Linked DNA regions of Homo sapiens. The protein of the gene in region 2 interacts with the protein of the main gene of each other region in a pairwise test. Each region holds a gene or a part of one and is shown on either strand. Other genes may lie near its edges.

The links.
Region 1: the proteins of FAM13B (region 2) and WNK1 interact in a two-hybrid assay, tested with the Homo sapiens proteins (one large-scale study listed by IntAct).

Annotation. Positions count from the first base shown.
Region 1 is NC_000012.12:895,579-899,078, forward strand, and holds part of WNK1 (serine/threonine-protein kinase WNK1), read left to right. Parts: intron 1-492; coding exon 493-1,154; intron 1,155-1,900; coding exon 1,901-2,103; intron 2,104-3,500. UniProt on the Homo sapiens protein: Serine/threonine-protein kinase component of the WNK1-SPAK/OSR1 kinase cascade, which acts as a key regulator of blood pressure and regulatory volume increase by promoting ion influx.
Region 2 is NC_000005.10:137,949,580-137,953,079, reverse strand, and holds part of FAM13B (protein FAM13B), read left to right. Parts: intron 1-370; coding exon 371-452; intron 453-3,500.

The DNA.
Region 1 (3,500 bases), on a different chromosome or scaffold from region 2:
CTCCCAAGTAGCTGGGATTACAGGCACACGCTACCATGCCTGGCTAATTTTTGTATTTTTAGTAGAGACAGGGTTTCACCACGTTGGCCAGGCTGATCTGAAACTCCTGACCTCAAGTGATCCACCTGCTTCAGCCTCCCAAAATGGTGGGCTTACAGGCATGAGCCACTATGCCTGGCCCTGACCTTTTGTTATGTATATGTTGACTAAGACATAAATCTGAATTCTGTGTATGACATCAAATACGAAAGTAAATTATTTACTTTATAAGCGTAGCCAGCCACACAGAATCTGCATCTCAGTACCCATGTGTTCTCTATGATGGTATTCAATTTTTCTTCCTAGTCAAAAGTGGAGGCGCTATGTAAAGAGACAATCAGCCTACTCTTTGACAGGGAAATAAAGTGATTCTTTTTTTCCTTTTTTAAATTGTCTGTGATAGAAATTGGATATTGAGAACTTAAGTTTTTAATCTTTGTCCTTTTTTATCAGGTTTCTGTTGCAGCAGACGGTGCCCAGAAAGAGGGTAAAAATAAGTCAGAAGATGCAAAGTCTGTTCATTTTGAATCCAGCACCTCAGAGTCCTCAGTGCTATCAAGTAGTAGTCCAGAGAGTACCTTGGTGAAACCAGAGCCGAATGGCATAACCATCCCTGGTATCTCTTCAGATGTGCCAGAGAGTGCCCACAAAACTACTGCCTCAGAGGCAAAGTCAGACACTGGGCAGCCTACCAAGGTTGGACGTTTTCAGGTGACAACTACAGCAAACAAAGTGGGTCGTTTCTCTGTATCAAAAACTGAGGACAAGATCACTGACACAAAGAAAGAAGGACCAGTGGCATCTCCTCCTTTTATGGATTTGGAACAAGCTGTTCTTCCTGCTGTGATACCAAAGAAAGAGAAGCCTGAACTGTCAGAGCCTTCACATCTAAATGGGCCGTCTTCTGACCCGGAGGCCGCTTTTTTAAGTAGGGATGTGGATGATGGTTCCGGTAGTCCACACTCGCCCCATCAGCTGAGCTCAAAGAGCCTTCCTAGCCAGAATCTAAGTCAAAGCCTTAGTAATTCATTTAACTCCTCTTACATGAGTAGCGACAATGAGTCAGATATCGAAGATGAAGACTTAAAGTTAGAGCTGCGACGACTACGAGATAAGTAAGTATATTTTCTCTTGTGAAAGAATGTCAGATAAGGTTTTCAGACCTAGATCCCAGGGCCAAGATTAATAATATTTTTCGCCACAATATGCTAATGTCTCATTTCTTTTAAAGAGACAGTGCCACAGAAGCCCCACCCCATACCTCCCCACCACACACACACACACACACACACACACACACACACACACACACACACACACACGATTCCCAACCACTGACTCACAGGCACAGGCAGCTTCTCTTGCACTCATACAGACCCATAGCATTTCTAGTTCTAGAACTTCTTCATTGTTACTATATTATTACTGTATTATTGTTACTGTATTGTATTATTATTTTTATTAATAGCATATTGTATCACTATTAACTGCTCTTTATTTATTAGTCCACTAAATGAATCTGGCACTGGGATGTATGATTATTTGGCACGTTTTGTTTGGCAGATTGGGTCAGAGTAGCAAATTCAGCTATTGTGTGCGTGGCCTCAAAAGTCAGGAAATGTTTTTCTCCTAAAACATTATCAACCATTTGTTGTTGGCTAGGAGCTTGTTGGAACATGGCTTGGGTAATGCAGGCCAGCAAGGTGAGTTGACAAACTAGAATCTCGTGGTAGTACATTTGGGGAAAAGGTTCATTAGTAACTACTACATACTTGAAAGCAGGTTTAGGAATATGCTGTTAATTCTTGTCTGAATGAAGAGGATTATGGTATTTTGAATTATGTTTGGTTATCTTTCACAGACATCTCAAAGAGATTCAGGACCTGCAGAGTCGCCAGAAGCATGAAATTGAATCTTTGTATACCAAACTGGGCAAGGTGCCCCCTGCTGTTATTATTCCCCCAGCTGCTCCCCTTTCAGGGAGAAGACGACGACCCACTAAAAGCAAAGGCAGCAAATCTAGTCGAAGCAGTTCCTTGGGGAATAAAAGCCCCCAGCTTTCAGGTAAAAAGCCCTGGACTAGGTCAGCCACAGCTGTCCTATCTTTTGTTTCTGTCTCCAGCTGTATGTGACCTGCTGAACATTTGTTGTTTTTGTTAAATTTCAAAGGAATTTGGCTCTCCTGATATTTTTGCTTCCTTGACTGCTGTACTTACATTTATTGTACCTCTTTTTGAGTCTATAGAAGTAGACTTAGTGAATACAATGGCTTATTCCATTGTAATCCATATTGCTATCTACTGGTAATCTTTATTTATAGTTATTCTTAAGGATAGACATTTAGCTTTGCCTGTTAACTCGTATAACTCACATTTAACCAAACTCTTGGGCAGTTGGAAGAAAATACATTATTCTCTGTTTAGTAAAACTTGGGTAGATTCTTTGTTTTAATGGATGACTTAGTCATAATTGCAACTTAGATGAATGTAATCGTCATATAGATATTTGTGTGTATGTCTAAGTGGTAACTTCTTGATTAAGGTTTTTATTTCATTTATATTGGGTTAAAGAACTTGCTAGTCATTGGTTAGGCACGGTGGCTCACGCCTGTAATCCCAGAACTTTGGGAGGCTGAGGCAGGCAGATCACGAGGTCAGGAGATCAAGACCATCCTGACTAACACGGTGAAACCCTGTCTCTACTAAAAATAAAAAAATTAGGTGGGCATGGTGGCAGGCGCCTATAGTCCCAGCTACTCAGGAGGCTGAGGCAGGAGAATGGCATGAGCCCGGGAGGCGGAGCTTGCAGTGAGCTGAGATTGCACCACTGCACTCCAGCCTCGGTGACAGAGCAAGACTCTGTCTCAAAAAAAAAAAAAAAAAGAAGAACTTGCTAGTCATTAAAATCAAAGAAATAGTTAAGTGATACTCTTTTGTAATGTAGTATATATATATATTTATTTATTTTAAGAGACAGGGCCTCACTCTGTTGCCCAGACTGGAGTGCAGTGGTGTGATCATAGCACACAACACAACAGCCTCAAACTCCTAGGCTCAGGTGGTCCTCCTACCTTAGCTTCCTGGGTAGCTGGGATTACAGGCACACACTACCATGCCCTGCTAACTTTGAATTTTTTTTTTGAGACAGAATCCCGCTCTGTTGCCCAGGCTGGAGTGCAGTGGCACGATCTCGGCTCACTGCATTCTCCGCCTCCCAGTTTCAAGTGATCCTCCTGCCTCAGCCCCGCATAGTAGCTGGGATTACAGGCACATGTCACCATGCCTGGCTAATTTTTGTATTTTTAGTAGAGATGGGGTTTCACTATGTTGGCCAGGCTGGTCTCAAACTCCTGGCTCAGGTGATCCACCCACCTTGGCCTCCCAAAGTGCTGGGATTACAGGCGTGAGCCACCGTGCCCGGCCCTGGACTATATTTTAATTGGGATAGATAGAGAGTTTCTA
Region 2 (3,500 bases):
TTTACATTGACAAATCATGTTACTGCTATTTCTGCTCTATCAAAAACTACAAGTACCAAGTGGGGAGGAGAGGGAGTTTGTGAGGGATGGAGTGGAGGAGGGGAAAGAGAATTTTAATAGTTAGAACATATGAAGTGGAAAGAGTCCTGTACTTGGAGTCAGAAGACCCATATTCAAATCTGGCTTCTGCCAGTTACGAGACCTTACCTTGGGAGAACTTGACTTAATATCCTGCCCTATCTAATTAAAATAAGATGAAATGAGAATTGAGCAGTCTTTGCTGTGGGAATTGTAAAATACTATTTGGACATAAATTAATGTAACTATTGCTTATCACAAGTGTCAGTGATTCTGCTCCATAATTTTTCAGCCCTCCTACAGTGATATTGCTGCCAATCCAAAGGTATTAAAATGGATGACAGAGCTTACAAAACTGCGGAAGCAAATTAAAGGTATATTATGTGCCATTTTGTAATATATTTGCATTTTAAAAATTTTTTTATATTAATGTCTGAGAATCACAAATACAACTTTTGATAATTTTAAATCTTGGGCACTGTTTGACAAAAATAAAAGTTACCTTTTTTTGTTTTATTAGGGTCAAAATTGCATACTGTAGTACTGTGTTATAGTACAGTACTGTAGTTCTGTATTATATTTTAAATGTCTTTTTTGTGTTTTTATTAGTAATATCTTTTTGAAAGATACCTGAGATTGTATATTAATAAGTGAACTGATGTTATAAAGTTTATCTAAAATATATTTCAGATATTAAGCAGCTTTGAGTTTTGTTGGATATTTCATTAAGATTTTTTGGTAGGTATTTTCATCTAAGACTAAGAATGTCTAATCACAGTGACTCGTTTATACCACAAAGACTAAATTGTAACTCTTGAATGATAAACTAGGCATTGCATTTCTGGGTGTCAAACCAGTATAGTAATTGTTGAAGTATATTTAGTTTGTGGATGTTTAGTGAGTATGTGTTTTAATAATTATTACTTTAAAAATTATGCAAAATAGGGGTTTATTATCTGGAGCATCACTTTGGTTTAAATTTACTCAATAAAGTTTTTATTTTTATTTTTATTTCTAATTTTTTCGAGACAGAGTCTCACTCTGTTGTCCAGGCTGGAATTCAGTGACGCCATCTCAGCTCACTGCAACCTCTGCCTCCTGGGTTCAAGTGATTCTTGTGCCTTAGCCTCCCGAGTAGCTGGGATTACAGGTGCACGCCACCAAGCCCAGCTAATTTTTGTAATTTTAGTAGGGATGGGGTTTTGCCATGTTGCCCAGGCTGGTCTCGAACTCTTGGGCTCAAGCGATCCCCCTGCCTCAGCCTCCCAAAGTGCTGGGATTATAGGTGTGAGCCACTGCACCTGGCCTATAAAAATAAAAAAATATATATTTTTTATTTTTTTGAGACAGAATCTTGCTCTGTCATCGAGGTTGAAGTGTGGTAGCATGGTCATGGCTCACTGCAGCCTTGAACTGGTGAGCTCAAGTGATCCTTCCACCTCAGCCTCAAGAGTAGCTAGGACTACAGACATGCACTGCCACACCCAGGTAATTTTTTAAAATTTTGTATAGAGTTGGGGTCTTGCTTTGTGCCTGGATTGGTCTCAAACTTCTGGCCTTCAGCAGTTCTCCCACCTCGGTCTTGCAAAGTGTGGGGATTACAAGTATGAGCCACCGTGCCCAGCCCAGTAAAGTGTTAAGTATTTCTGAGGTACTAAATACTTTGTAGACAACTAGGGATATAGCAGTGAACAAGACAGACAGAGTCCCTGCTGTCATGGAGTTTATATTCTTGTGGTTAAGATAATGTTTGCCTCTCTCTCTCTCCTTTTTTTTTTTTTTTTTTTTTTTTGTTTGAGACAGGGTTTTACTCTGTTGCCCTGGAGTGCAGTGGCACGATCTTAGCTCATTGCAGCTTCCACCTCCCGGGCTGAAGCGATCCTCCCACCTCAGCATCCCGAGTAGCTGGGACTACAGGCACATGCCACCATGCCCAGCTAATTTTTTTGTATTCTTAGTAGAGATGGCATTGCACCATGTTGCCCAGGCTGGTCTCAAAACTCCTGGGCTCAAGCCATCTGTCTGCCTTGGCCTCCCACAGTGCTGGGATTACAGGCGTGAGCCACCTCACCCGGCCAAGATAATGTCTCTTAACTCCTCTTTAGAGTATCACTTAATTTTCCCCTATACTTCTGTTAAAGATTTCCTTGTTTAATGCCAATTTCCAGTCATCAGTGAAAATTATTACCTTGATTTTATTAGTAGTTGATACCATTAAATTGTCTAGCATTGGCCTCCTAATTTTCCCATTTTCTTTCACTTTTACTGCTCTGTAGTCCGTCTGCTGCATGGTAGTCAGAATTATCTTTAAAAAAGTCATGTTAGCCTGGGTCCCAGCTACTCTGGAGGCTGAGGCAGGAGGACCACTTAGGCCTAGGAGGTCAAGGCTGCAGTGAGCCATGTTTGTGCCACTGTACTCCAGCCAGGGTGACAGGGCAAGACCCTGTCTCAAAAAGAAAAATAAATAGTCTTACTACTTTCTTTTTCAAGCCCTTCAGTGGGCTTCCACCTAGAATAAAGTCAAAACTCCTTACTGTGGTTTTCAAGGCCTTGCACAGTCTGCCCTTGGCCGATTTTATCACTTTCATCTCTTTTCTGTTCCTCAAACTTGCCAAGCTTTAGGACCTTCACACTGGCTATTGCCTCACTGGGGACAGATGCCCTTCCACTAAATCCTTTGTGCTAGACAAGCTCCTTATTCCGTATTCTACCAGGATGATACTATTCAGAGAGGTCTTCTTTGTCAATCCCGTCCAATGTAGTTGTTCCTCCACAAATTATACTCCTTTTAGCGCTGTGACTCTACCCTGTTTTACCTATAGATCATAGCATTCTTTAAAGTTATTTTACTAATCTGAGTATTTGGTTATTGTTTTCCTTCTCTGAATATATGCTCCACAAGAACAGGAACCATGTCTGTTTTGTTTTCTTCTGTATCTCCCATGCCCATCAGAGCATTTTATTCAATAATAGGCTCTCTATGGATATAAAAATAATAGCTTGTTCTCTCTTTTTTTGTTGTTGTTTTTGTGTTTTTTTGAGACAGGGTCTGACTCTGTTGCCCAGGCTGCATTGCAGTGGTGCAGTCTCAGTTTACTGCAGCCTGAGCCTCCCAGGCTCAATGTGGTCTTCCCACCCCAGCCTCCCAAGTAGCTGGGACTTACAGGCATGTGCCACAGTGCTCAGCTTTTTTTTTTTTTTTTGAGACAGAGTCTCACTGTCTCACCCAGGCTGGAGTGCATTGGCTGATGTTGGCTCACTGCAACCTCCGCCTTCTGGATTCAAGTGATTCTCCTGCCTCAGCCTCCTGAGTAGCTGGGATTACAGGTGTGTGCCACCAGGTACAGGCACATGACACCACACCTGGCTAACTTTTGTATTTTTAGTAGAGACGGGGTTTTGCCATGTGGACCAGGCTGGTC